Linked DNA regions of Homo sapiens: region 2 is linked to region 1. The links come from fine-mapping of genetic effects on gene expression. A gene starts in region 1. The other region holds a variant in brackets. All regions are shown on one strand. Distances are from middle to middle.

What was found. PIP is the estimated chance that this variant, and not a neighbour inherited with it, causes the effect.
Region 2: its variant is the best candidate, but not a certain one, in a credible set for the expression of DZIP1 in lymphoblastoid cells (GTEx, PIP 0.71).

Annotation. Positions count from the first base shown.
Region 1 is chr13:95,643,375-95,646,288 of GRCh38, forward strand. It overlaps DZIP1 (DAZ interacting zinc finger protein 1), which reads right to left and starts at 1,332. Exons shown (of 23, transcript NM_198968.4): 1 at 1,003-1,332; 2 at 227-324. RefSeq lists silencers at 945-1,054, 1,115-1,204, 1,295-1,404 and an enhancer at 1,495-1,544.
Region 2 is chr13:95,707,987-95,710,900 of GRCh38, forward strand. DNAJC3 (DnaJ heat shock protein family (Hsp40) member C3) reads left to right here. Exons shown (of 12, transcript NM_006260.5): 2 at 1,241-1,351. Among named protein-coding and RNA genes, the nearest start is that of DNAJC3, 32 kb to the left of the region's middle. The variant A/G (reference allele first, on the strand shown) is at 1,440.

The DNA of each region.
Region 1 (2,914 bases):
CATGCAAAAACATCCAGGAAATAAAACACGCACTTCATATGGTTTCAAATAAACCATATGTCCAAGTTAATTGGCCTTTATTCCCTGCAACCAGGCATAAAAAGTGCTAAAGACATAAATAGTTTCAAAGTTTGATTCTGTCACTTACTTGCTCCCTGATCTAGAACAAATTGTCAGCTCTAAGACTTAGCTTCCTCCATCTGTTTAAGAGCATCAAGACACCGACCTGGCAGGTCTGTAGATTCTGGACTCCATCCACTGGGCTGCAGGATCAGCGGGAACAAGAGCTGTGGTCTCTCTTGCTCAAGTATACGTCCCTAGAACCTAGCAGAGGACAGGCACGGAGAAGGCGTTCAGAATTTGCTGAATGGACACGTGAATGAAGAACGATCGAATGACTTAGGCGCTTAGTTAAGGAAACATCAGCTCCTGGCCCTTTATCCCTCCTATTTTTGCTGCCTCTGGCCTGTTAGAACGATTAACCCATGATCTGGGCCAAGGGCTTCAGAGCTGAACGTGGGGGTGGCCCGCGCGCCCCCGCTGAGATCTGGGCGCAGAGGCCTGCGGGCCCGAGGTACCCATCTCCGTTGGCCGCCACACTCCATCGTGGGGCGTCGTGCCGCTGACCACCCCTTTCCCCTTGCGTGGATCTCGGTCACAAGATGGCCGGAACAGGAAAGAAGGGGGCATGCTTTCCCGTTCCCTCCCTCCCCCATCCCGGGCAGGGCCCCCAGCCTTGCGCGGCGCCTCAAGTCCCAGGCGCATGGCACCGCCGGGCAGCCGAACCAGCAGACAAAAGCCGAGAGACGCGGGTTCCAGGGGAACCTCGGCGCCCTTCCTTGGAAGGCAAACAGGCAGTGGGGGCAGCGGCGGCTACTCCAGCTGGATCTGCAGAGGCTCGGCTCGCAGCCTGGAGAGGCAGGAGGGCCGGCTTCGCGGGTATCGGGATGCCCCGTCAGCCACCTCCTGTGGGCGCCTGGCGCATCCCCGGTCTCGGCTCACCCCAGCTGCGCGCTCCTGGGCGGGTGCCGGGCGCTGCAGGCGGGCGGGGGCGACACAGGGGACCCAGACCCCAGGGTCGCTGCTGACGCGGGCCGGGCCCGCGGAGGCCGAGGAGCAGCAAAGCGGAGAGAGGCAGGCCGGCTCCTTCTTGCAGGGCGCAGGATGAAACGTGTCTGGTCTGGGCAAGTTGTGGCGAGGCGGGTCGACTGGCGCCGCTCTAGGGCCTTCCAGACTCCGGACCACGGACGACTCAGGATACCCCACCCCCCTCCCGCCCCCTCCCCTCCGCGATCTCCCTCCGGCCTCTTCCCTCGGTGTCCCGGCTCCTCTGGCAACTGGGCGGGACCGCGAGCGTCTAGACCGCAGCGCTAAAATGCGCTCAGCCAATCCGGCAGCTGGCGCAGACACGTGGTTCGGGGGCGCGCTCCGTTGCTGGCCCTGGATGCTAACCCTAGGAAGGCTTTTCAAAGAGAAACCAGATTCGCTCCTACCCGGTTGTTGGTCTGGCCCTCAGCAAGCTAATTTCCCAGAGGAGCTTCAGGTGAATTATCTTCCAAAAAGAGATGCGTTTTAATCGCAGAAGTCTGCAGATGCGAAGGACCTTGAAAAGGCTATCTAATGTGGCCCTGCATTTGAGTGACGTGGAAAACCGAGATTAGGGACTTTTCACCAAAGCCCTCTAGGATTTAAACCCACGTAGGTTTCTGCGTCTCTTTCCGTTATGCCCACTTCAGGATGAAAGGCACGGATCTTTGTTGGTAGAAAGTTAGGCACTGAATTACAGGAGATGTGGGTCCGGAGTAGTGTGCTCATTTATGTAACCTAAAATTGGAACACGTGGGACAAAAGTCAGTATTTTTAAGTAACAAGTAATCCAGAACGTATGTATATACCATCATGAGAAATGAAGGCATCTTTTGCAAAACCTAAGTGTCTAATGCAGCTATATATATATATATATATAATATATATATATATGTTTTTAAATTAGAGAGGAGTAGCTGCAGAACTTTTACTGGACCAACATGCCGTTGTAAAAGTGCCTTTCCTTGTGCTTCTCCCTGACAGAATCAACTTTGTACCATACTTTAGCACAAGGCTTCAAACATAGCAACAGCTAAATATGTATTTATGTTGAATTCCTTGCTTTAGTTTTATTTGAAGCCATAAGGCCAAGATGACCATGATGGGATTTTAAATTGGTCTAATTTTAAAATTATTTTGAAAGAAAATTCAAGATCTCTATAAAAATCCTCTAAGTACTATGGGGAAAGATTTCTAGATAGAAATTTCAGACAATAGGCCGAGCGCAGTGGCTGACGCCTGTAATCCCAGCACTTTGGGAGTCCGAGGCGGGTGTATCACGAGGTCAGGAAATCGAGACCATCATGGCTAACACGGTGAAACGCCGTCTCTATTAAAAATACAAAAAATTAGCCGGGCATGGTGGTGGGCACCTGTAGTCCCAGCTACTCGGGAGGCTGAGGCAGGAGAATGGCGTGAACCTGGGAGGCGGAGCTTGCAGTGAGCCGAGATCGCGCCACTGCACTCCAGCCTGGGCGAGAGAGCGAGGCTCCGTTTCAAAAAAAAAAAAAAGAAAAAAGAAAAGAAAAGAAAAAGAAAGAAAGAAAAAAAAAGAAAGGAATTTCAGACAATATGAGATAGATAGGACCATTGCTCTGCAAAATCCGGTTTTTGCAAACTCGGTAGCTGTCTGTGTGTGTGTGTGAGAGAGAGAGAGAGATGATTGCTTAATTAATATTATTTGTTGACATACCATTTGAGTTACATGTATTTCCCATCCCCACTGTCAGTATATTACCCTACAGGTGTAGAATTGGAATAAGAAGAATCAATTGACTTTGGCATGACTTAGCAGCCATGATGCATTCTTGATCTATGCACAAACCAC
Region 2 (2,914 bases), 65 kb after region 1:
TGTGAAATCTGGAGTGTGTGGGCTGAGGTTGCCAGATCACTGAGGAACTGGACCCCTGGGCATAAGCTGTGGCTAAGTACCCCTGGATGTCCTCCTCATCCATACCATGCAGCAGGAAGTCCACCCCATGACAGACCATGCAGCAGGAGCCAGAAGACAGTAAAATGCACCAAGCAGAACTAGGAAGTGTCCTTTCTGCAGTGTTGCTTCAGTGCCCTGTACTGACAAAGCATAACATTGTACTCACTGTAAAGAGGAAATGCCTGCAAACTCCAGGCCTTTATTGCAGTGCAGGTACCGAAGGATGAATTCAGAGCGGAGAGGCAACATATTGATAATTGGCCTAGTCCATCAGATCATGTTATTGATTCCACAGTAGTTCCCTGTTTTAAGACAAGTAAATATTCAAAGCTGTAGACAGGTCCTCTACTTCTTTGACCTCATACTACTATCTTCCTCTTGGCTCTGCTGCAGCCATCCAGGCCTTTCTCCTGTTTCTGGAACATATCTGCATGCTCCCGACTTAGGACCCTTGCTGGTCCCTCTTCCTGGAAGCTATTTTCCTAGCTGTCTGCATGGTGAGTTCCTCATTTTTTTCAAGTCTTGCTCAGATGTCAGTTTCTCAAGAAGGCCTGCCCTTTACGCGCTTATTTGCTACTCTAAGTCCCCTGAACTCCTTACCTCTTCACATGGCTTGACTTTTTCCACAGTACTTTTCACCCAACATACTATATAATTTACTTATTTATCATGTCTGTCTCCTCCCACGATAACATCAGGCGCCAGGACGGTATGAGGGGCAGGAGTTTTTTAATGTTGCTCACTTATTGCAGATACCTAAAATAGTGCCTAGTGCATTATAGGTGCTTAATAAATACTTAAATATTGTAACAGTCTCTATGATGTTCATTAAAGGTGAGATTCTACCTTCAAACAATTTTCATTTTATTATTCAAAATATTTTTACTACTTCTGCATTACACAACTTCCCTTTATTTTCTGGACTGGTTACATTCTTTTGACTGATTAGGTCAAGATGGGTACATTTTTTGTCTTGTGCTCCATATAATGAAATAGGGTTTGTATTTTATGTTACGTTCTTTACATCATTTTTCAGCTTCTGTGACTTTTCTCATCTGAGTAGATGACTGAGACAGATAACTATTTTTAATATTATATTTTTTAGAATTAAATCTTAGTTCGTGGAAAGTTAACTGATTGTTTTTAATTTTATTTTTAGGTGCTGAATGTGGAGTAAATGCAGATGTTGAGAAACATCTTGAATTGGGCAAGAAATTACTTGCAGCTGGACAGCTAGCTGATGCTTTATCTCAGTTTCATGCTGCCGTAGGTTTGTATCATGGAACCAAATCACTCAGTGTCTGTCTTAGTGAATTCTAGTAATAGCTCTTTTTTTAAAAATAACATTTAAAATAAAC[A/G]TTATTTCATGTTTAAATAAAACATTTAAATATATTTGTGGGATTCTGAGCGAAATAGATGGATAAAATAAATATATAACACTTAAATGTATGTGCATCTAACATGAGAGAAGTTTGAAGGTTAGTGAGGCCTGCTACTACCAAGGATAACTCAAGATATTTCTGACAAACAGCTTTTCTCAGTGTATTATTTGGCTTCTGACTTTTTTTTTTTTTTTTTTTTTTTGAGACGGAGTCTCGCTCTGTCGCTGTCGCCCAGGCTGGAGTGCAGTGGCACGATCTTGGCTCACTGAAAGCTCTGCCTCCCGGGTTCATACCATTCTCCTGCCTCAGCCTCCCGAGTAGCTGGGACTACACGCGCCCACCACCACTCCCGGCTAATTTTTTGTATTTTTAGTAGAGACGGGGTTTCACCATATTAGCCAGGATGGTCTCCATCTCCTGACCTCGTGATCCGCCCGCCTCGGCCTCCCAAAGTGCTGGGATTACAGGCGTGAGCCACTGCGCCCGGCCAGCTTCTGACTTTTTGAACAGATTTTACTGAATGCAGTTTAATTTTCTTGATGACTTGGGTTTTCAATATGTTCACTTGATATCCTTGGGAGATGCTGCAGTTCATTGCCTCTTCAGTATTGGTCAGACCCCAGCTGCTCTTCATTTATACTGTTGCTTCTTATTTCTTACTCATGTCTGTCTGTAGAATCAACTGTCGTGCAGCTGCTCATCTGTTAGGACTGTAAGAAGTGAGATGACCAGAATAAATAGGTTCTTAGTGAAGGCTTAATGGATTTTCTCTCCTTTTCTTTTCTTTTTTTTTTTTTTTGCTTTTTTGAGACAGAGCCTTGCTCTGTCACCCAGGCTGGAGTGCATTGGTGTGATTATGGTGATTATGGCTTACTGCAGCCTCAGCCTCCTGAATAGCTGGGATTATAGGTGTGTGCCACTATATCCAACTACTTTTTACAACTTTTATTTTTTATATTTTTGTAGAGATGGGGTCTCACTATGTTGTCCAGGCTGGTCTGAAACTCGTGGGCTCAAGCAGTCCTCCTGCCTTGGCCTCCTAGAGTGTTGAGATTGTATGCATGAGCCACCACATCTGGCATGGATTTCCTTATGAGTCACTGCTAAACTTTTGTACTGGGACTTTTTGAACTTTCCTCAGAGTTCTTTACTTATATATTTTTACCTTGATTTGAATGGTTGAGAGTGTGTAGTTAACAACCGAGGGTGGTGTTTTGTTTTGTTTTGTTTTGTTTTTGTTTTTGTTTTTGTTTTTGAGACAGGATCTTGCTCTGTCATCCAGGCTGGAGTGCAGTCACGTGATCTTGGCTCACTGCAACCTCTGCCTCCTGGGCTCAGGTGATCCTCCCACCTCAGCCTCCTGAGTAGCTAGGACTACAGCTGCATGCCATCATGCCCAGCTAATTTTTGTATTTTTTTTTAATAGAAACTGGGTTTCACCATTTTGCCCA